Linked DNA regions of Homo sapiens. The protein of the gene in region 5 purifies or fractionates together with the protein of the main gene of each other region. This does not show direct contact. Each region holds a gene or a part of one and is shown on either strand. Other genes may lie near its edges. The genes, in order: PCDHGB4, TMEM63A, ELSPBP1, TIMM44 and HDHD5.

Region 1 (5,221 bases), on a different chromosome or scaffold from region 5:
TGCTTTTGATCTTCTAATGAGCATAGTAGACCTTTTTCTAAGTAAAAGGATCTCTCTCACACACACACACACACACACGCACACACAGCGTACACTGCATATAATCACAAGGGGTCCATGGACATAAAAATCCAGTTGACTCCTTATTCTAAGAGCTTTTGAAACAAAAGGGAAGTTAACACAGGAAACAAAACAGTGGACTACTATGGAGACCATACCAGTTAAATTAGTTAAGAAAAGTGTTGAATTTTAGCTTAAATTCTTTGGCTTTATTATTTTTATATTTATGGTATATCCAAGCTGAAAAAAGTATTCATCATATATTAGTCAACAAGAAGGAAAATGTATAGGAAAAATCTCATTCACTTTTTAGGAGAGAGCCAACAACTGTCTAACACTTTCACTTTGTGGTTAAAACCACACCCTCATTGCTTTATAAATCTAAGCTTGGCTAAAAAACAAACAAATGTTGGGCCACACAATTGCTCCTACTTTACTCCTCCTTTGTAGAATGATATGACAGCTTTTTAACTGACTACAACTTTCCTAAAATGATCCATGACATCTAAAAATTATATATTTTCCTGCAAATATGTATATTTTCTTGTGAATATGGAGAAATGGGTAGGCAATGAGCATTAAATTATACTTAAAGGAAACTCACCTGATGGGAAGTCAATTCACTGGAATTACAAAGTGGAAATAAGGCCCCAGATGAATCACCGCAAAGTATGTCTTGTCCTGAACTCAACTGCTCACTACATTTTAGGAAATTAAACTCCGTCTTTCCTGTATGTGCAACACATAGATTGTAGGAATAAGGCAAAGTCCCCTCGCTGTAGTTGGGGGGAACCACGGATTCGGATTTAACACAGAGACCAGGCTGGAAGCAGCTCCAGGAGGCGGGGCTGGAGGAGCGTCGCAGGCGCAAGGCAATGGCCAGAATCATGGCCACGAGGAAGAGCACTGAGATCAAGGCCAAGGCCACCACTAGGTAAAACTGCAGCTCAGCCTGGAGGTCAGAGGGGTCGGGGCGGTCAGTGATATCCGGCAGCACCTCCTGCAAGCTGTCGGCGAAGACCAGGTGCAACGTGGCAGTGGCCGAGAGTGGTGGCTGTCCACCGTCACGCACGGCGACCAGAAGGCGCTGGCGGACGGCGTCCCTGTCGCCTAAGGCACGCGCTGTGCGCACTTCGCCCGTGCGCAGCCCCAGGCTGAAGAGCCCGGGCTCGCTAGCCTGCAGCACGTGGTAGGACAGCCAGGCGTTGTGTCCTGAGTCTGCGTCCACCGCCACTACCTTGGTCACCAAGTAGCCAGGCTCTGCAGCGTGCGGCACCATATCGAAGAGCGCAGAGCCGTCGGGACCCAGCGCGGGGTACAGCACCCGTGGCGCATTGTCGTTGCGGTCGTCCACTAACACGCGCAGGCTCACGTTCGCGCTGAGCGCTGGCGAGCCCTGGTCGCGGGCCTGCAGTGTGAGTTCGAAGGCGCGCAGCTGCTCGTGGTCGAAGGCGCGCTGCGCGAACACCACCCCGCTCTCCGCGCTTATGGACACGTAGGATGACAGCTCCCGCTGCTCCAGGTCACTGGCCATGATGCAGTAAGAGACTTGGCCGTTGGGCCCCAAGTCCGGATCAGAAGCCCTGACTTGTGAAATAGAGGCTCCAGGCGGGTTGTTCTCGGCCACGTGGACTATATAGGAAGACTGTGAGAAAACCGGAGCGTTGTCATTTACATCACCAATGTGCAGGGTGATGCTGGAACTGGAGGAGAGGGGAGGCTTGCCCCGATCTGTTGCCGTAACGGTTATATTGTACTCTGGATTCTGCTCGCGGTCTAGAACAGCATCTGTCACTAATTTATACGTGTTTCTTGAAGAAGTTAATATTTTAAATGGAACATCACCTTCCAATTTACAAGTCACTTCTCCATTGTGTCTGGAATCCTTGTCACGGACTTTGAGCAAAGCAATATGTGTTCCCAGCTCGGCGTCCTCCATAATTAGGTTGGGTAGAGACTGGAATATCACTTCTGGGGCGTTGTCATTTTCATCTATGACTTCTACCTCCACTGTGCATTGCGCAATCATTCCTCCACCGTCCCTTGCTTCCAAAACTATGGAATATTCTTTGACTTCTTCAAAATCTAATGTATTTAAAACAGTAATTTCCCCGGTGTTAGAGTTCAGGTCAAATTGGGTGATCTGGCTAGCTTCACTGAAAGAGAAAGTAATCTCGGCATTGACACCCTCATCCTGGTCCGTGGCAGTCACCTGTAGCACCGTGGTCCCCGGGTACACGTTTTCTGAAAGGCTCACCCTGTATACGTCTTGACTGAACACTGGAGCATTATCATTGGCATCAGTCACTAGAACGTGTATCTGTGCAGTGCTGCTTAGGGGTGGAGCTCCAAAGTCCAAGGCAGTCAAAGTCAAGTGGTAGGATTTCTGCTTTTCTCTGTCCAAAGGTGTCTTCAATACCATCTCAGGGTATTTACTGCCATCTGATTTCTCTTTATTTATCAGTGAGAAATGATCACTGGGACTGAGTTGGTAATTCTGCAGTGTGTTGCTACCAATATCCGCATCATGGGCAGATCCTAATATAAATCGTGTGCCAGGCTGTGCAGACTCACTTATTTGCAGCTCAAAGGAATTTTGCGTGAATTTTGGCGTGTGGTCATTAATGTCCTCGATCTCCACATTCACGTGATAAAAGTTCAGTGGATTTTCAGCAACAGCCTCAAATTCCAGAGCACAAGCTGGCTTCTTCCCGCATATCTCCTCCCTGTCTAGCCTGCTGCTCACAAGCAACTCCCCGCTCTCTGCGCTCACGGTGAAGTAAGGCTTCTCCGAACTGACGCGCAGTTTTCGAGTCGGTAACTCCTGGACGCTGAACCCCAGGTCCGTGGCGAGGTTCCCCACTACGGAGCCCTTGGGCATTTCCTCGGGAATCCTGTAGCGGATCTGCTCACAGAGCGCCGGGCAGAACAAAGACAGCAGGAAGAGAAAGAGCACTGGCAGCCTCTCAGCCCGGCCCAGCTCCCCGGCGCCGCTCCCCATCCCTCTTGCTCTCCTCAGCTTGCTCACCAGCCTGGAGACGCCGGGTTACAAATAACCTCTGTATTGCAGATTTTTGGATCTCCGAACGGACTTTAGTTGCAGTTCCAGTTCAAGAAAAAATTCTTCTTTTTCCGAGGAGGAAGCGGTGTAAAGGCTGGCGCTGGGGAGTCTGAGCTGGGGCTGCCCTGGAAAGCGCGCTGCGGCTGCGCGAGGAGATCTGGAGCGCCAAGCTCTCCACTTTGGCCAACAGCGGCGCCCAGAGTCAGCACTAGGAAACTACAGCCTCTGCTGCTTCAAGTTAACCAGTGCAATAATTATAATTGTGTGCCTAACTGAAAGAACAAAAACTACGTGGATACGTCTGTATATTTAATGACGTCTAAAAATGTACTCTTAGGAATGCCTTCATCCCAACTTTGAGGATTTTTAGGCAAATCATGTAGATTAAGTACATAAACATTTATTGACATAAGCTTTCCCCAATCTTCAAACATGCACTATCTATATAAAGATAGCCATAACACAGACTTGGCCTAAACCGTCTCAGAGTACAGTAATTTTCCATACTTACTCATTAGAAATATACTGGATACATTTTATCTTTCTTTCATTGTTCCTAACATTTTCTCCACTTTTCTAAGTACCTCCAAGTTGATTTATTTCAACTTTTTCCGGAGAGTATCAGTAATACCAAAATTGCCTTTTAGAAGGTGCAATTTATACTTATCTTCAAATACACCCCCTTCCCAATAGTTTCAGTGATTTCATTACAGGAATATTATGTGATTCTCATTTCGATGATCACAGGCAGTAGCCTACTCCTCTCCTCATTACACAATTATTTTACTGGTTATGAAATACAACATTCATCTTCAAAGTTATCAGGGGGATAATACATAGCCTCAAAACACAAAGTCACTGAGATCTGCTGCACTGAAGCACTGCTTCCTACCTCTGCACTTATTTTACATTCCTTGGTGACCTCTGAATTGAAGGAAACAATCCCTGGAAAGTTTGATTGCAATAGCTCACTGAGTTTAGTGATTATGTCTCTCCATTGCTTAAAAACAATTTTATGCATCTAATAAATTTTGGTCAGGAGATTTTCTTTTACAAAATACCTTATAACCGTAGTTCTGCCATAGGATCTTCCCTCAGTAACATTGTTGGTGTCAGCAACATTGTCTTCTACCCCAAGTGATTGTACATCTGAAATGTGAACACTGCAGAACTTGTAAAATGTATCCAGCCTGGGTGACAGAGCGAGACTCCATGTCAAAAAAAAAAAATGTATCCCCCACACTATTGTACAGAGTCTATCATGTGCAAAATACTACCAAATACAACACTAGTCTAAAAAGAGTCTTTTTTTGAAGAGACAGAGTCTTGTTATATTATCTAGGTGGGCCTCCAATTCTTGGGTTCAAGCTGTCCTCTTGCCTCAGCCTCCCATGCAGGTGGGCTACAGCTTGCAACACCATACCTGGCTAAAAGTGTGTTTTTAATTAATACTCAAAGGTCTCTGGAATCAAGATTACCTTGTCATCCACCCCTTCTGGATGACAATCACTTGATATACTGAGCTTTACTAAAATGTTATACAAAAGAATATGGAAGTAGTTAATCCCAGATTGGGTTATTTCCAACTGAATTTTTCAGTAGACCTAATAAATAAAATCAACTACTGGTCTAGGATCTGTGTACATAAGATGGTCTAAGGTTTGAGTACGTGAGACAGTTGAAACAAAGCCAGTATCCCCAATCTCCCACTTTGATAGCCCACAGACACACTTCATCTGGCTGTACCACTAAAACAACATACTGGAATTCTCTGTTAAAACATGTAATTGCCTATGTCACAAATGCCAATTACAACACTTAAAATGACATTTTATTTGACATATTTTATTGGTTTTGTCCGATGGCCTTTAGTGTGGCATTAGACTTGATGTCTGTCTTTGATATAGATCTTAGTGAAGTGTGATACACACACATTTCATTCTTTAGGCATAAATCCAACCTTCTACTACCACCCCATTAATAAATGATTATACTGTAAATAGGTCAAGAAGCAATCAAGATTTTTTAGGACCACCAAGCTGAGGTACATGGAGGCAGAATCAGCCACAGAAAAAAATCTTCACATGGAAGAAATCTTTC
Region 2 (4,683 bases), on a different chromosome or scaffold from region 5:
ATTTTGTTTAATCCTCGCAACCACCAGCAACAAAGGGAGTACGATTCCCATTTTACAGATAAGGAAACTGAGGGCAACACACTGCTCTTCCATAGGGCCATCCCCCTCCACCCTGCCTGTTAAGCTGGAGCTCTGATCAGTGCTACTGCCAGGCCAGTGGCTCAACTTTTCATTCTGTCACTTTTTCCCCAGGCCCAAGTGTAGCAATAGACCACGTTACACATTGCCTGTTCCCAAGCTTCCCTCCTCAGGGCTCCCACCTCGACCCTCACCATCTCAACAGGTCACAGCTTTTCCTCCTTTAACCTCCCGTAAGGAGCCCAGCAGCCCCTCTACTCCTGCCTCAGATGCCTTCCCCTTTCCTCCTGCCCCAGTGTCTGCAAGGAGGCAGGAAGTCCTGTGTGAGTCCATTCCTAGTGTCACAATGCCTGGGGCAGTGGCTGGACACCTTTCCACACCCCTCTCCCGACCCACCCTGTGCTGCTCCTAAGGCGAGATGACACTGAGACCACAGGCATGAGAGCCTAGAGTCCCATGCCAAGGGCCACTGTGAAAAGCCACTCCCCAGGGTCAAGCTCCCCACTGCAGTGAGCGCCCCAGCGTGCCCCAGGGGTCTTCCCCACAGCTTTGCATTTGTGGGAAGGTGGGGAGCCACAGACAGAAGGATCTGTGGCCCAGAGCAGATGTCTGAAAGGAGGGTGCCTCCATCTCCCCTGGGGCAAGGCTGGCACATGAAGCCAACAGGATGGGTCCAGGGCAGCAGGGAAGAGCCCAGCAGTGGGGCCAGGCCACATCAGCTCGAGGGGGTCAGCCAGAATCACCCACTCCGTGGCTGCTGCCCACACCCCCACCGCCTGTTACACAAACATGGGCTGGGCTGGCTGAAAGTGAGTGTGGGTAGCTGAGGGAGGAGAAGGAAACACCACAGATAAATCCCAGGGATGGTGGGTCAGCAGTACCATCTCCACTCGAGAGGGACAGTGAGTTATCTGGAGGGGAACAGGGAGTCAGCCAAGAAGGGGTCTGGATGTGCCTACACTCACTAGGTGGCCATGGACTTCTCCTGGAAGGTGACGAAGGCCATTCCCAGGGGCTGGTCCTGGACGTGGCGTTCTTCCTCTGTGATCCTCTCCAGCAGCCTGTCCTTCATCCGTGTGTAGTAAGAGATGGCGTCTTCCTGCCACAAGACACATCCCATTGGGATGACGTGGCCCCATGCTGGTATCTGGGGCACCCCGATGCCAATGCCTCTGCTCCCAGCCGGGGGGTGGGACCCTTACCCACTCACAGCCCAGCACTTCACAGCAGCAAAACTGGCCACAGGGCTTGGGGTTGATGAGGGTCCGCTGGCCTGTCTTCACCTGCAGGTTTGTGTAATAGGTCAGGCTCTTCTCAGTCTTCTTTCTGTAGGGGTGGGAGCGGGGGCACAAACCTCAGATTTAGAATCCTGTGGCAGGGACCCCCATACCCACAGTTCAACCATCGAACGCCAGGGGAGAAGGAGGGGTCCAGGGCCTCCCGCCTCCCTTCCTAGCTGGGAGATGCGAGGCCAGCAAGGAAGGAGGGGGCATCTTGCAAGGCCCGCCCACCACTCACTTCTCCTTGCACAGGTAGATCAGTTTGGCCACGTTGTAGCACAGCTGCACATCAACCACCTCACACGTGGGATACGCGTCCCTGTGGCCAGGGAGAGAAGGAGGCAAAAGACACCGTTGGAAAAGAAAACACCCCAAGCAGGAGACGTGCCCACGGATCCAAGGGAAAGGATGGCAGAGTGATCTCGCTGCTGGTTTCTGTGCCAGCGGAGACCTCTCTTCTCTTTGTCTTTTATCCTCCAAAAGGGGGAAATTTTGAAATTTAATACAAAGAGGGCTTTTGTTTTGTTTTGTTTTGTTTAGAGACAGGGTCTCACTCTGTCACCCAGGCTGCTGTACAGTGGCACAATCATGGCTCACTGTAGCCTCAACCTTCTGGGCTCAATCAATCCTCCCACCTCAGCCTCCTGAGTAGCTGGGGCTACAGGCACATGCCACCAGGCTGATTTTTATTTTTTGTAGAGACGGGGTCTCGCTATGTTGCCCAGGCTGATTTCGAACTTCTGGCCTCAAGCACTCCTCCTGTCTCACCCTCCCAAAGTGCTGGGATTGTAGGCGTGAGTCACTGCACCCCGCTAGCCTTTTTTAGTAGTATGAAGCTAACTGCCTGGAACTGACAAGTTTATACCCACTTGGCTTGGAATCAGCTGGCACTTCTCCTGGGGAAAAATGAACACATCACTATCCCCTCTAAAGACCCAAAGGAACAGATTTATTGTTTGTGCTAGGTCAGTATCTACCTTGAGCCATCACTGAAATCCTATTCAGGTAGCCTTTTTTAAGGTCACAGACCTTTCAGAGGGTCTAATGAAAGCAAAGGACCCTCAGACCAGAAAATATCTACACACATATTAACAACCAGCAAGGCCAGGTGCGGTGGCTCATGCCTGTAATCCCAGCACTTCGGGAGGCTGAGCCGGGTGGATCACTTGAGGTCAGGAGTTTGCGACCAGCCTGGCCAATGTGGTGAAACGCTGTCTCTACTAAAAATACAAAAATTAGCCAGGTGTGGTGGCACACACCTGTAATCCAGCTACTTGGGAGGCTGGGGCACGAGAATCACTTGAACCTGGGAGGCAGAGGTTGCAGTGAGCAAGATTGCCCCACTGCACTCCAGCCTGGGCAACAGAGTGAGACTCCGTCTCAAAAAAAAAAAAAAAAAAAAAAAAAACCCAGCAAAATACATACTCACTATTGACCAGGTATTGTTACATATATTTATTTATTTAATCCTCATCATAACCTGTGAGGTTTTGTCCCCATTTTACAGATGAGTAAACTGAGGCCGACAGAGGTAAGTGGCTTGTGCCCAAGATCACACAGCTAGTGAGTGTCTGAGCCAGGAGGTGAATACAGGCAACCTGGCTCCAAGGTCAATGCTCATGGCCACCATGCAATACCCCCTCACCATACACGCAAAATTATACATACAATTCCAGGGGATTCCAGAACCATGTAAATCCCCACCTACCACCTGCCAGGCACTGTTCTAGGTGCTGGTAACAGGGCCTGGATGTGCTTACATTTTAGTGAGAGAGACAGCCCATAGGTATATCAATCATGAAATTAAACAGTAGGACAATTTCTGGTCTCAATAAGAGCTGTGAGGAAGAAAACTGCAATTTAAGCATCCCTGCTTGAAAGGCAAATTCATACATCAATCCCCACGGACTGCAACAGCATTCACTAAAAAGGCCTCTTAAAATAGGGGAAAGCATGAGTCATGCAATGTTTGTATGAGAATGAGGAGACTTTTTTTTTCTCTTTAAAGTTATACATTAAGTGGAATTACTGTTTCCAGGTGTTGCCTAGCAGGCAACTTTGAGGAGTTGCTTCAAGGAAATACAGAAAAATGATTCTGGTATTGAGTATTTACATATTAGTAAATATTTCTAAAATACTTAGAGTTTCTGAAGAAGTTTTTCAAATTTTAAACATTCAGTTTACGATCCTGTCTAGCAATTTGCTTAGCAAGTGCTTTCTTCACAAATAGTGCAAAGTTAAAGTGCAGCCAACTCCTAGTCCATGCAACAAATTAGTGGCTGCTGTATTGATAAGGAATGAAGAGAGGCCGGGCATGGTGGCTCACGCCTGTAATCCCAGCACTTTGGGAGGGCAAGGCAGGAGGATCACTTGAGCCCAGCAATTCGAGACCAGCCTGGGCAACATAGCAAGACTCTATCTCCATAAAAAATTTAAAAATTAGCTGGGTGTGGTGCCATGTGTCTGCAGTCCCAGCTACTTGGGAGGCTGAGGCAGGAAGATGCCTTAAGTCCAGGAGTTGAGGCCGCAGTAAGCTATTATTGCACTACTGAACTCTAGCCTGGGCAACAGAGCAAGACCCTGTCTCTAAAAAAATAAGATTACAAAAAAAGGAATGAAGAAAGAATAAAATGTCAGCTCCTCAGCCCAGCCTTCAGGTCCTCCAGCATGGGGTCCTGGGAGCCTTCCCGGACTGCTTGCCCTGCCCCCCTGCACCCCACCGCCACCTTTCCTGATGCTCTGGGCCTTTCCCCGCATCCCTGGCTGCACACGTAATCTCCTCACAGGAAAGACTTTCCTCCAGCCTCCATCTGCAGGAATTGGTGGTGCAGATACTCAAAGGGAGCCGCTGGAAAGGAGGTTCTACCAGGGAGAGCCTGGACTCAGACACAGTGCTCACTCAACAGACACCCGCTCAGTGGGTGGACAAACGAACAAACGCAGAGATGGCCCCGAGGTCCTTCCACCTGTGAGACCCTAGCCCTGTGGGTCCATACAAATGCTCAGCTCACGTCTCTCTTATTCTGCAAAGGTGATGCTAAGAACCCCGGGGTCAACAATTTTTTCCCCCGTATGCTCTCAAGACGTTTATTCGCACCTACACCCTGGTCTGTGCTCTGGACACTGTGCACAGGCTGCTTGAAGAGGATAGGCCACCAGGGCGCTATTCACTGCACAGCACCAGCAGGGCTGGCACACAGGAGCCACTCCATACACGTGTGGCAGGGCCAGGTCCTTCTCAGATCTCACCTGGATACCCAAGCGAGAGACAGAAGGCGCTCACCTAAGGTGCTCGCCCTGCGGGTGGGGCTGTGTTGGTCCTACG
Region 3 (4,683 bases), on a different chromosome or scaffold from region 5:
TTTTTTCGAGACAGAGTCTCACTCTGTTGCCCAGATTAGAGTGCAATAGCGAGATCTTGGCTCACTGCAACCTCTGCCTCTTGGGTTCAAGCAATTCTCCTGCCTCAGCCTCCCGAGTAGCTGGGATTACAGATGCCTGCCACCACACCCAGCTAATTTTTTTTAATTTTTAGTAGAGATGGGGTGTCGCCATGTTGCCCAGGCTGGTCTCGAACTCCTGGCCTCAGGTGATCCACCCGCCTCGGCCTCCCAAAGTGCTGGGATTACAGGCATGAGCCACTGTGCCCAGTGGGCATGGGTGTTTTTCAAAAAAAGTTATGTTGAATGTGTCTGTCTCTCCTGCCTCCCCTTCCACCTCCTCCATTGCTTCTGCCTCTGTCATCCCAAGATGGTGAGACCAACCCTTCCTCTTCCTCCTCCTCCTCAACATGAAGATGATGCTAATGACCTTTATGCTGATCCATTCCCACTTAATGGATAGCAAACATATTTCCTCCTTTTTACCATTTTCTTATTAACATTTTCTTTTCTCTAGTTTCCTTTATTATGAGATACGGTATATAATACATAAGACATAAAACATATGTGTTAATTGACAGTTTATGTTACTGGTAAGCCGTCTCGTCAATAGCAGGCTATTAGTAGTTAAGTTTTGCTGGGATTACAGGCATGAGCCACCTCGCCCAGCCTCAAATCCCGTTTCTTACACTTCGTTTCCTTTTTCCTTATTAACTTAGAAAATTAAGAAAGGCATAAAGATGGGATGGTTCTATTGGGTCAACTAGTCTTACAGTATCACAAGACCCTCATCCAGAGAGCACTATTTTTAACACTAGCATTATTAACATTATTACCCATTATTAGCATTCATTGTCAGGCATCCCAGAGCCTTTTCTTTTTCTTTTTTTTTTATTTGTGGAAATTAAAAACAGTAATTATATATCATTTATTACCCATTACATTATCACTGATTTTTTTAAATTTTATTATTATTATAATTTAAGTTTTAGGGTACATGTGCACAATGTGCAGGTTTGTTACATATGTATACATGTGCCATGCTGGTGTGCTGCACCCATTAACTCGTCTTTAGCATTAGGTATATCTCCTAATGCTATCCCTCCCCCCGCCCCCCACCCCACAACAGTCCCCGGTGTGTGATGTTCCCCTTCCTGTGTCCATGTGTTCTCACACAAGTTAGAATGGCGATCATTAAAACCCAGAGCCTTTTCTACGCACGCATACGTATTACCGTTTGTCTGCAAAAATGTGATCATGTCATAGACAGTCACACATTCTCTTTTGTGATCCACCCTATTCAAAGGCCACTGGCAGGGACAATGTGATACCACTCACCTTCACTCTGGCAGTACTTCCACTGGCCGTTGTACACGGCTCTGGTGGCACACCAAGGGGATAAGCTATGAATATGGGTGCAAGTGAAGTAAACAGATCCCTTGTAGGTGAAAGGAAAGACACATTCCTCATGCATCCCTGAAGGGCAGAAGGAGAAAACAGGAGTGGGGAAGAATCACGATGAATTAGCAAAGGATGAGTCTTGGTTTGGCTCTTGCTTTAATATGAATGTCCGTGTTCCCTCCCTGCCCCCGCCGCAAAATTCATATGTTAAAATCCTAACCCCCACGGTCATGGTACGAGGGGCCTTTGGAAGGTGATTAGGTCGTAAGGGCAGAGCCTTCATGACTGAGATAAGAACCCTTATAAGAGACCCCAGAGAGCTAGCTAGCCCCTTCTACGATGTGAGGATACAGCAAGAAGGCACCATCTGTGAACCAGGAGGCAGGCCCTCACCAGCAACTGAAACTGCTGGTGACTTGCCCTTGGACTTCTCAGCCTCCAGAACTGGGAGACAGAAATTTATATTGTTTATAAGCTACGCAGTCAATGGTACTTTTTAAATTTTATTTTATTTACTTTTTTTTTTTTTGAGATGAAGTCTTACTCTGTCACCCAGGCTGGAGTGCAGTAGTCTGGTCTCAGCTCACTGCAACCTCCACCTCCTGGGTTCAAGAGATTCTCCTGCCTCAGCCTCTAAAGTAGCTGGGATTACAGGTGCCCGCCACCACACCTAGCAAATTTTTGTATTTTTAGTAGAGACGGGGTTTTGCCATGTTGGCCAGGCTGGTCTCAAACTCCTAACCTCAGGTGATCCTCCCACCTTGGCCTCCCACAGTGCTGGGATTACAGGCGTAAGCCACCATGCCTGGCCTGTGGTATTTTGTTATGGCAACCCAAATGGACTGAGACAGTTCTCATGGTGGCCTGAAGGCTACACACCTAGGCTTAGCATCCAATTTCCTAATGACATGTCAGAGCATATCCAGTTCATGTTGGGGCCAGGAGCACTGGGGAAGAGTTTCATACACAACCAAGACAACCGTGGTGTGTTGTTCCTTGAGACCACTGTTTCTCAGAGCATAAAATGGGGGGCCAATGACATTACACAAAATACTTTTTGGTGGATCACAAGATCACATTAGGTTATGTAAGGACACACATTAAATAATTTTGAAATATAGACTAGAAAAAAATCATTTTCCAGTGGTCCTTTTAGTCCTTCTGCTTACGCAAAAGAGAAAGCTTCAATTTAATAGTAGTATTTCTCTACTGCATCTCTAATACTTAATAATCTCCCATTTTAACAAAAAAGAGAGGGGGGTGGGGAGCAGGACTCAAACTCAAAGCTTTATTCGGACGATAGTCTAGCAGAATTTAATAATGGGATTTTGTTTTCATAGTACAGTATTTCTTTTTGGTCGTACTTCCTATTTATGGAAAGTGGTAGTGCTTTTTTATATTATAATACTGATGTTAACCAATCTCCCAAAATGAATTTTTTAAAGTGAAGAAAAGTAAGCAAATTTAAAGAAAAATGTTGAGTAAATAATAGTACTGGTGGTACCCAGATGTGGCAAATATTGAGGGGACAACTTTCGACGTCCTTATTCTTCTCAATGAGTACAGGAACTTTGTTTTTTGTGCAGTGTATCTACAGAACCTAGAATAATTATTTGCTCAAGAAACAACAGAAACAATAAAATAAGTTTGGAAAAATGCCACGTGAAATAAAGTTAAACAGGTTTCTTTAATGAAGGACTCAACAGAAAAGTTAATATGAAAATGAGAATTGATGAATACAGTATATCGAGTTGTCCTTCTTTTTTTTCAAAATTCAATGGCACTAGAGACTAATGGTCCCTGAAATATATCAAAAAATGCTGTTCTCGGCCAGGCACAATGCTCCATGCCTGTAATCCCAGCACTTTGGGAGGCTGAGGTGGGCGGATCGCTTCAAGACCCGCCTGAGCAACAAAGTGAGACCCCCATCTCTACAAAAAAACAAACAAACAAGATTAGCCGGGCATGGTGGTGTGCCCCTGTAATCCCAGCTACTTGGGAGGCTGAGGGGAAGACCCTTTGAGCCTGAGTAGTTGAGGCCACAGTGAGCCATGATTGCACCACTGTACTCCAGCCTGGGTGACAGAGTGAGACCCTGTCTGAAAACAAAACAAAACAGAACAAAACAAAAAACAAAAACGGTGTTCTGCAGAATTTTGATGTGTAAATTTTTTTGAAAAAAGAAAGAAATGCTATTCTATCCCAAATTCCTCATTACATGAAAACCCACGTACAATAAGGACTAATTAAAGTTGATTGCTTTTTTTTTGTAGACCTGGGATGAGAGCTCAACTTGCTCAACTGTTAGTTCATTGCATTTTTCACCTTGTTTCTCAGAACTGTTTGGTATTTATTTTTGTGAAACTTAAACCAGTTTAAATCTGGAAAGTGCTTAGAAGAGTACCTGGAGCATGGCTGCTGCTTAATAAATATTAGCTATGATTATCATTGTCATCATCATCATCATTACCATCACTGTCATCATCATCATTCTCCACGCTATTGTCATTGGCATCATCATAATGCTCATCATCATTGTCATGATCATCATCATCAGTCATTGTCACCATCATCAGTCTCATTATTGTCATTGTCATCAGGATGATGATCATCATCATCGTTGTCATCATCATTGTCATCATAATCCACCTCATTATTGTCATTATCATGTGATGATGATCATCATTGTCATCATCATCATTGTCATCATTATCAGTCATTGTCATCATCATTGTCATCATCATTATCAGTCATTGTCATTATCATCAACCTCATTATTGTCATTGTCATCATCATCACTGTCATCGTGATCATTATTCTCCTCCTCATCACATCATTATTGACATCATCATTATCATCGTCATCATCATTGTCACCATCATCATCATCATCGTCATAATTGTCATCATCATCAGTCATTGTCACCATCATTATCAACCTCATTATTGTCATTATCATGGTGATCATCATCGTCATTGTCATCATCATTATCAATCATTGTCATCATCATCATCAACCCCATTATTGTCATTCTCATCATCATTGTCATCATTATTGTAATCATTATTTTCCTCCTCATCACATCATTGTCATAATCATTATCATCATCGTCATCATCATCACTGTCACCATCATCATTGTCATTGTCGCTATTATTGTTGTCATCATTACCGTCATCATTGTCATCATCGTCATATCATCATCATCCTCATCATTATCATTGTCATCTTCACTGTCATTATTGTCATTATCAATGCTTTGCCT
Region 4 (4,683 bases), on a different chromosome or scaffold from region 5:
CACCCCAGCCCCGCTGTGCCTCCCTCGCAGGGGGTGGAGTCCGTGAAGAAGGAAATTGACGACAGCGTCCTGGGACAGACCGGGCCCTACCGGAGGCCCCAGCGACTCCGGAAGAGAACGGAGTTTGCGGGAGATAAGTTCAAGGAGGAGAAAGTGTTTGAGCCAAACGAGTAGGTACCAGCCCGTGGCCCTCGCTGCCCCCATTTTGGGCAGCTTTCACTGCTGTCCATTTCGGGAGCCCACCAATGGTTCCCTCCTGAGTCCGTTTCTTGAGTTTGCCTTCTGCCCAAGGTTCCCGGCTCCCTCGAATTTGAGGGTGAGAGGTGAGGGCGGGGTCCTCAGAGCCCCTAGGTTTGAGGTCTCAGCTGCCTGCTGTCCTGTACTGCCCCCTGCCTGCAGCCGCAGGAGGGCACAGGGTGGCCCTGGCGCCGCCGCTCACCCCAGGGCCCACCCTCTTCCCCAGGGAGGCCCTGGGGGTCGTGCTGCACAAGGACTCCAAGTGGTACCAGCAGTGGAAGGACTTCAAGGAGAACAACGTGGTGTTTAACCGTGAGTGAAGGTGTCTTGGAGGGCAGGTGACTGTGTCCCGGGCAGTTGGTGGACCGCAAGGTGATCCCCCTGCATTGGGCACAAGACAGCCCCGTTTTGCAGAGGAGGAGATCGGGGTCAGAGTGGGCCGGTCACTTCTTTGCGGTCACATGATGGTGGGGCTGTAGATTCTGCCGCCAGAAGCCAGGTGCTCCCTCATAAGCACAGTCAGGGCCCCGAAACGAGCCGCAGGCCCCTGTCCCTTGTCCTGTGAGGACTGCTAGAGGCCTGTGTTTCCTTTGTAGTGAAAGCAACAGCCAGTGGGGTGGCGGCCCATAACTTACACAGCCCCATTAGGGCCGCAGCTGAGGGGCCTCTGCGCCTGGCCAGGTAGGTGGGCAGGCAGCGGTCCCCAAGCACAGATGAGGATGCAGGTCCACAGCCGTCCCCTCCCTGACCCCACCCGTGTCAGGGTGGATCCCGCAGGGGTCACAGGGAGCCTCTAGAAGCTGTGAGGGAGGGTTGTGTTTCTGGAAGGGGCCCCTTCTCCAGCACCTACCCCATCTTCCACAGGGTTCTTCGAGATGAAGATGAAGTATGACGAAAGCGACAACGCGTTCATCCGGGCATCCCGGGCCCTTACGGACAAGGTCACCGACTTGCTGGGTGAGTGAGTCATCCCTGGACCTCGCAGGCTGGTGGTGGGGCGGGGTCCCCGGCCTTCCCCCCGAACTCCCGGCTCTGCTCCCTGCAGGGGGCCTGTTCTCCAAGACAGAGATGTCGGAGGTGCTCACGGAGATCCTCCGGGTGGACCCGGCCTTTGACAAGGACCGGTTTCTGAAACAGTGCGAGAACGACATCATCCCCAATGTCCTGGAGGTGGGTGCCACACCCCCAGGACCCCTCCCAGGCGGCAGGTCCTGGCTCCACCACCTCCCCCGCCGCAGCCGGCACCCTGGGTGCTGCCAGGGAACTCTGCTGCCGAGGCTGTTTTCTGAGGAGGCTGGTTGCACACGGGCTCCTGCCCGGCTGCAGCTGCCCCATGAGCTGTGCCCGAAGCCCTTCCTGGGCCTTACCGGCACCTCCGGTACCTCCAGGTCTGTTTCCCTCACTCCTCCTGCCTGAGGCTGTTGTTCCTTTGAGGTTGCTGGGAGCAGCTGCTGGAGGCTAGGGATTGTCTCAGGTGCCTGGAGCCCCTCACCCCTTGGGAGAAGTGGGCGTCTGTCTTCAGACATCAGAGCTGGCCCCAGGCCACGTCTGACCCAGAGCTGCAGCCGTGAGGTTCCCTCACGGTGCTGTCCCTGGCAACCAGACCCTTGTTGGGCTTATAGATGAGGGTATCTTGCTCAAGGTCATGCTGCAGCCTGCCCCCTATAAGCCTCTCCCTGAGGTTGGTGGCCTCTTGTCTTCCCTGCTGCCTCTGCCTCTCTGCAGCCCCCAGGATGCAGGAGGAGCCTGGACACCTTCGGCCCAGTCGGGCCAGGCCTCTGGAAGGCCCTTCATGGGACTCTCCATCCTTGGCCCCGCCGGCCTCCGCCCAACGTCCTCTTCCTCCTCCAGTTTCCCGTATCCTTCCCGCCACTTCGGGCAGGGCTGGGAGGTGGTGCGGATGGGCGCCATGCCCCAAAACAGCAGCCTGAGCACCGCAGTGCCTTCCGGGATGGGTGATGGGTGCCAAGTGTTCTGGCCACCCGCCCCCTGCCGCTCACAGCTTTCACCACCAGCATCCGGCTCCTTCCCGCTCTTCTCCCCGCTCCAGGCACCTCCCTCCCCCTCATCGGATCCGGCCCAGGCTCCAGGATCCTGTGGAAGCAGCTCCCAGCCCAGGCACGCCCCCTGCAGCCCACCCCTCCCTCTCGCTGCCCCCAGCAGTTAGGAGGCAGCCGGTCCCATGGTGGGCCTTGCAGTCCGAAATGTGGTCCCCTGGGGGGACAGAGGACATGGGCTCACTGCGGGAGCCGGAGTTGGGTCCTCATCTCCCTGGCTTGGATTCCTGACCAGGCTGAAAGCTGGGTCCCCAGCCACCTTTCTCTTCCTCCACCAGGTTCCAGGGGGGTCCCCCTGTGGGGTGCCTCCTGGGTGGTCGCCCGCAGGCCGCCCTCCGCCTGTGCCTAGGCCAGAGCCAGGCACTGACACCAGCAGGGACGGGCCTGGGGGGGACACCCAGTGCCACAGCTCCACCCGCGCCCCACAGGTGGCAGCCGGGGGTGTCTGAGGAAACTCCCCACCCCGCACCACTGGAGAATGTTCCCAGGACCTCGCCTGCTGCCTGAAAAGCCCACTCTCGTTCTGGTGCTTATTTTCCCTTCCTTTTTAGGCCATGATTTCTGGAGAGCTTGACATTCTCAAAGACTGGTGCTATGAAGCTGTGAGTACTTCCTTTCTTTTTCTTTTTTTTTTTTTAAGGCCTAAAAAATCACCATGGAGAAGTTCCACTTCGGTGGCTCCGTTGGGGTAGCTCCCAACAGGCAGGACCTGGGCTCCCGGTGGGGGAATCCTCACGTCTCACCCTCCGAGAGCCTGACATCCCCCCCTGCCCCTTTCCATTCCTCAGCATGTGACACATCTGGGCTCTCAGGCTGGACACCGGGTCACCCGCCAGTCCTTTGCTCCCAGACTGTAAACTTTGTTAGGGAGAATCCTTCTCTGGGCTGGTGTCTAAGAGATGGCTGGTTGGGGGTGTCCCCTGGGCCTGTGAGAGATCACAAAGCTGCCAATTTTACTGGGCCTTTTTTTTCCCTCCAATCTTAAAATAATTTTGGTTAGGTCTGGGCACGGTGGCCTATGCTTTCAATCCCAGCAGCCCAAGGCGGGAGATTGCTTGAGCCCAAGCATTCAAGACTAGCCTGGGAAACATAGCAAGATCCCGTCTCTACAAAAACATTTAAAATGAGCCAAGTGGCAGGGTGCGGTGGCTCATGCCTGTAATCCCAGCACTTTGGGATGCCAAGGCAGGCGATTGCCTGAGCTCAAGAGTTCGAGACCAGCCTGGGCAACATGGTGAAACCCCATCTCTACTAAAATAAAAAGTTAGCCAGGCATGCTGGTGCATGTCTGTAATCCCAGCTACTGGGGAGGCTGAGGCAGTAGAATTGCTTAAATCCGGGAGGTGGAGGTTACAGTGAGCTGAGGTCGCGCCACTGCACTTCAGCCTGGGCAACAGAGCAAGATTCTGTCTCCAAAAAAAAAAAAAAAAAAAAAAGAGCCAAGCATGGAGGCAGGCACCTGTTGTCCCAGCTATTAGGGAGGCTGAGGTGGGAGGATCACTTGAGCTCACGAGGTCAAGGCTGCAGTGAGTCATCGCAGCACAGCACTCCAGCCTGGGTGACAGATCAAGACACTGTCACTAAGGAAATAGGTCGGGCACGGTGGCTAACGCCTGTCATCCCAGCACCTTGGGAGGCTGAGGCGGGCGGATCACCTGAGGTCAGGAGTTCGAGACCAGTCTGGCCAACATGGTGAAACCCTGTCTCTACTAAAAATACAAAAATTAGCCAGGCCTGGTGGTGGGCGCCTGTAATCCCAGCTACTCGGGAGGCTGAGGCAGGAGAATCGCTAGAACCCAGGAGGCGGAGGCTGCAGTGAGCCGAGATTGCACCACTGCACTCCAGCCTGGGCAACAGAGCGAGACTGTCTTAAAAAAAAAGAAATAATAATTTAGGGAAGGAGAGTCCCAGGAGAGGTGGTTGCAGCCATGAAGTAAAATGAGGTGTCTGGGGGCCGACTGCCCTATTTCAGGTGGCTGCAGTGGCCTGGGGTGCAGGCTGGGGCCGGGGGTCAGGGACAGTGTGGGTCTCCCACATGACTGGGGGGGGGCTGGGAGTCAAGTGGGGTTTGAAGGTGTCACCCATCCCACTTCCCAGGCCAGAGCAGAGTCCCTGTGCTCACCTCCCACGGGTCGTGAGAATGAAGTGTGATCACAGAAACCAGGGCAGTGCTGGCCCCGGGCCAGAGGGAACCCACAGAGGTAACCCTGGTAACCAAACAGCCCCTGGAAGAGTTGGGGGAGCTTTCATCGGTGACCCGGGGCCGCCACCTATGGGGCACGGATGGGGTTGCGGCAGTGGGTGCCCCTCCCCAGGCCCTGGGAGCCTCTAGCTGTCCTCACGACATGATCCTGAAACATAGATCCAAACAAAACATCGATAGTCTTCC
Region 5 (3,812 bases):
CCTTCTTTGCTGGTGTCCATTTTCAGCTGACCATATTGCCACTAGGTGTGAAAAAGACCTTCGCTTGCCTCCCTGCCAGCGAGGCGTGGCCATGTGACTAAGCTACAGTCAAGGAAAGCAGAAATGCTGGGCTAAATTTTCAATAAGCATCCTTAAAATTGGGGACAGGCGGCCAGGCGCAGTGGCTCATGCCTGTAATCTTAGCACTTTGGGAGGCCAAGGCAGGTGGATCACCTGAGGTCAGGAGTTCAAGACCAGTCTGGCCAACATGGTGAAAGCCTGTCTCTACCAAAAATGCAAAAATTAGCTGGGTGTGGTGGCACATGCCTGTAGTCCCAGCTACTTGGGGGGCTGAGGCAGGAGAATCACTTGAACCCGGGAGGCGGAGGTTGCAGCGGGCCAAGATTGCACCACTGCATTCCAGCCTGGGCAAAAGAGCAAGACTCCATCTAAAAAAAAAAAACAAACAAACTGGGGACGGTATTCTTCTCTGCCCTCTCTGCCCTCCCCAACTCCTTCTTGACACCTGGAATGCTGATATGATGGCTGGCGCTTGGGTACAATCTCAGCTCACTGCAACCTCCACCCCCTGGGTTCAAGTGATTCTCCTGCCTCAGCCTCCGAGTAGCTGGGATTACAGGCACCTGCCACCATGCCCGGCTAATTTTTATATTTTTAGTAGAGACGGGGTTTTGCCATGTTGGCCAGGCTGATCTTGAACTGACCTCAGGTGATCCACCCACCTCGGCCTCCCGAAGTGTTGGGATTACAAGCATGAGCCACCACATCTTTCAGTGTCATTTATGTAAATAATTCTACTTTTAATTAGAAAAGTTCATCTAAAATCTGGTTTGTAAATTGAAATCTGCCCCTTGCTTTTCAGTTCACAGAGACATAACCAACCAAGCCCACTGATCTAGTGTCAGCATACCCGCCTCTAGGAATAATACTTCAGAGACAATGCCAAGCCTCGAGCCACAGACATACACTTTAAAAGTGACAAGAGCATACCATACCCCGTCTCTCTGGGACTACTGAGACGGGCCCTGAGGCAGTACTGGGCCGTGCCCACCCTCTGCTGACGAGCACTGTCGACTGGGGGTCAACAGCAGGCTGAGACTCAAGAGACTGGCCATGCAGATAACAGCAACCGAACAGTACACAGCAGCTGTCAGCTGGCCTTCAAGTAAGCACCCTGAGGCCAAAAAAGGGCTGCCTCTATCTGTGCTAGCCCCAGAATAAGACAGGACACATGACACCAACACAGCTGAGCAGGGAGTATAGGCACCTGCATGCCCCTGAGAAAGCCACTTATCTGCTGGGTCTCAGTTCTCTGGTCTATACGACTATCAGAACAATCCTTGGCCGGCATGATGGAGCACGCCTGTAATCCCGGCACTTTTGGAGGCTGAGGCACGGGGGTCACTTGAGGCCAGGAGTTCAAGGCTGCAGTGAGCTATGACTGCACCACTGCACTCCAGCCTGGATGAGAGAGTGAGACACTGTCCCCGCAAAAAAAACAAAACAAACAAAAAACGACAAATCCTTGCTTCCTCCTGCCTTATGTCTGAAGGGTAAAAGGAAACCAGAAAGTCAAAGAACCAATGCTACAGGATGGAGCCAAGGAAGGAAGAGCAACTGAATAATGTGCACAGATACGGTACAAAAAGTGCCCACGGTTTGGGATCCACCAGACACCAAGAGCATGTTCTGTAAAGATTACAGGGGGCAGGGGTCACGTGTGAAACATCCTCTCAATACATCCTCAGACTCCATAATCTGTAGTTTAGGTTTAGTAACTAATATGTGGAGTGGTCCTTGAAAGCCCTTCCAAAGGCCAGGTTACTGCAGCAACAACAGGGCCTACCTAAGTGAGGTCCCGGCACCTGGGGTGTCAGGACGGATGGGAACTGCCTGCAGGACTGCCCAGGCAGCAGCCAGGAATAGACCACCAGGCCAAGGCTGGGAGCTTTGTGTCCTCACCTGGGCATCTTGGCTTCAGCCATCCACAGGAGATCCATGTTGCTGGCTAGGACGGGGAGGTGGGGGTAGGGGGGTGTTGCCAGGCCAGCCCCAGGGCTCCCATTGCTGAGGAGGACATCCATGATCAGCTGCAGGCTGGTCTCCCAGCGGACCGGCTCCCCTAGGAGGAGCACCCCTTTAAAGAACAGAGGCGCAGGTGAGGGCTGCAGGGCAGATGGCAGGCGGCAGGCCCTCAGGATGCCAGCTAGGGCTACCCATCCACAAGCCCTCCACCCATGGTGCACCCAGCTGGGCAGGGGCACAGCTCCCCAACAAGCCCAGTAGAGCCCCTTACCCATCCACCCTGGGTGCACAAGGCCCAGGGCCCAGGAAGGAGATTCCTGAGGGCTCCCATTCTGACTTCAGTCCACCAGTGCTTCACAGAAGAGGTTACAAAACAAAAGCAGCATGTCTCAGGGCTACTTCTCCTTGCTGGCTGGGACTCTGCCACCACATTCTCCCTCACATGACTTAGCAAGGGCTCCTGTTCCCTCAGTCGCTTCTCTCTGAGCCCCAGGGACTGGCAGAACCTAACAGCCAGGACAGGGGGTGTGGAGTGATAGAGACTTGAAACCCAACCTGGACTCCACCGATTCTCCTGTATGACTGTGGCCAAGTAACTTCTCTTCTCTAAGCCTCAGTTTCCTCAACTGCAACTACATAACAGCAACAGCACTTAGCTATTGTGAGGATAAAAATGAGCTACATCATCGGTAAACAGCCCAGGACTAGACACACAGTAAGCACTAGGCAAAGAACACTGCTGACACTAAGGTACAGGGCCGGTGAACTGCACCAGACCAGTGATTCTCCATGGGGCAGCACCGCCCCTGCTGAGGTGCTTTACAAATCAGAGGCAATTTTAGTTGTCACAATGACTAGAACCTAGCAAGTGAAGGTTGTGGGAGGGGGCCAGGGACGCTACATACTCAGGACAATCCTGTGCAATCAAAAACTATCCCACACTAAAATTAATTTTTAAAAAAACCATCCCATGGCTGCGTGCGGTGGCTTGTGTCTGTAATTCCAGCACTTTGGGAGGCCAAGGTGGTAGGATTGCTTGAGCTCAGGAGTTTGAGACCAGCCTGGGCAACATAGTGAGAGCCCGTCTCTACAAAACAACAAGAAGAAAAAGAAAAAACTTTCCCATGTCCTCATAACATTTGAATGTCCCACCTGATATCCTGGTATCCACACAGGTGAACAACCTTTTCAGAATTACTTGAACGATTCTATTTTACATACAATCACAAAGCATTTTTGTACAGCTTCAATAAACATCAATTTTTCCAAAAATACAACTATCGTGTAAGTCAAGAGAAGACTGTACTTTGCCTTTTCAAAACTCTACCAAGAACTGTTACCTATTTTGGAAAATCACTTGACCAACGGCAATGCTGCCCCTAATTTCTGAGTCACCGGTAAAACACGCCTGTCACACCTATAAACACACATCAGCCTGCATTTGTAGCTGTTAACATTCATGGTGATTCTGTTTAGTGCAACCATTTTACTTCTTGGATAACTACTACATACTGAAATACATTATCTTCTTACTAAAAATGTTTCCTTTTATATCCCCCTATTACAGTTAGGGCTTTATACTGAACTAATTTTTAATATGTGTGTACAGAAGTTATATTACCTAAGAATTTCACTTCAGGATAATAAAGGGGATATTCCAATGTTCTTGGTATAAAAAGGGGAGAACTGGGTTTAAAAGTTGAGAAACACTAGACTAGATCACCTCTAGGTGTCTTTCCACCACTAAAATTCTCTAAGCTTACGGT

Evidence for each region.
Region 1: the proteins of HDHD5 (region 5) and PCDHGB4 purify together in Homo sapiens (co-immunoprecipitation; one large-scale study listed by IntAct). This does not show direct contact.
Region 2: the proteins of HDHD5 (region 5) and TMEM63A purify together in Homo sapiens (co-immunoprecipitation; one large-scale study listed by IntAct). This does not show direct contact.
Region 3: the proteins of HDHD5 (region 5) and ELSPBP1 purify together in Homo sapiens (co-immunoprecipitation; one large-scale study listed by IntAct). This does not show direct contact.
Region 4: the proteins of HDHD5 (region 5) and TIMM44 purify together in Homo sapiens (affinity purification with mass spectrometry, with the first as the bait; one large-scale study listed by BioGRID). This does not show direct contact.

Annotation. Positions count from the first base shown.
Region 1 is NC_000005.10:141,385,725-141,390,945, reverse strand, and holds the start of PCDHGB4 (protocadherin gamma-B4 isoform 1 precursor), read right to left. Parts: upstream 3,249-5,221; 5' UTR 3,062-3,248; coding exon 665-3,061; coding exon of another isoform or gene 650-664; intron 1-649. UniProt on the Homo sapiens protein: Potential calcium-dependent cell-adhesion protein. May be involved in the establishment and maintenance of specific neuronal connections in the brain.
Region 2 is NC_000001.11:225,861,175-225,865,857, forward strand, and holds part of TMEM63A (mechanosensitive cation channel TMEM63A), read right to left. Parts: intron 1,678-4,683; coding exon 1,597-1,677; intron 1,405-1,596; coding exon 1,281-1,404; intron 1,178-1,280; coding exon 1,044-1,177; intron 1-1,043. UniProt on the Homo sapiens protein: Mechanosensitive cation channel with low conductance and high activation threshold. In contrast to TMEM63B, does not show phospholipid scramblase activity. Acts as a regulator of lysosomal morphology by mediating lysosomal mechanosensitivity.
Region 3 is NC_000019.10:48,010,982-48,015,664, reverse strand, and holds part of ELSPBP1 (epididymal sperm-binding protein 1 precursor), read right to left. Parts: intron 1,495-4,683; coding exon 1,357-1,494; intron 1-1,356.
Region 4 is NC_000019.10:7,929,351-7,934,033, reverse strand, and holds part of TIMM44 (mitochondrial import inner membrane translocase subunit TIM44), read left to right. Parts: intron 1-30; coding exon 31-170; intron 171-463; coding exon 464-549; intron 550-1,101; coding exon 1,102-1,194; intron 1,195-1,282; coding exon 1,283-1,407; intron 1,408-2,845; coding exon 2,846-2,896; intron 2,897-4,683. UniProt on the Homo sapiens protein: Essential component of the PAM complex, a complex required for the translocation of transit peptide-containing proteins from the inner membrane into the mitochondrial matrix in an ATP-dependent manner.
Region 5 is NC_000022.11:17,139,076-17,142,887, forward strand, and holds part of HDHD5 (haloacid dehalogenase-like hydrolase domain-containing 5 isoform 2 precursor), read right to left. Parts: intron 3,134-3,812; coding exon of another isoform or gene 2,994-3,133; exon of another isoform or gene 2,322-2,993; coding exon of another isoform or gene 2,318-2,321; intron 2,159-2,317; coding exon 1,984-2,158; intron 1-1,983.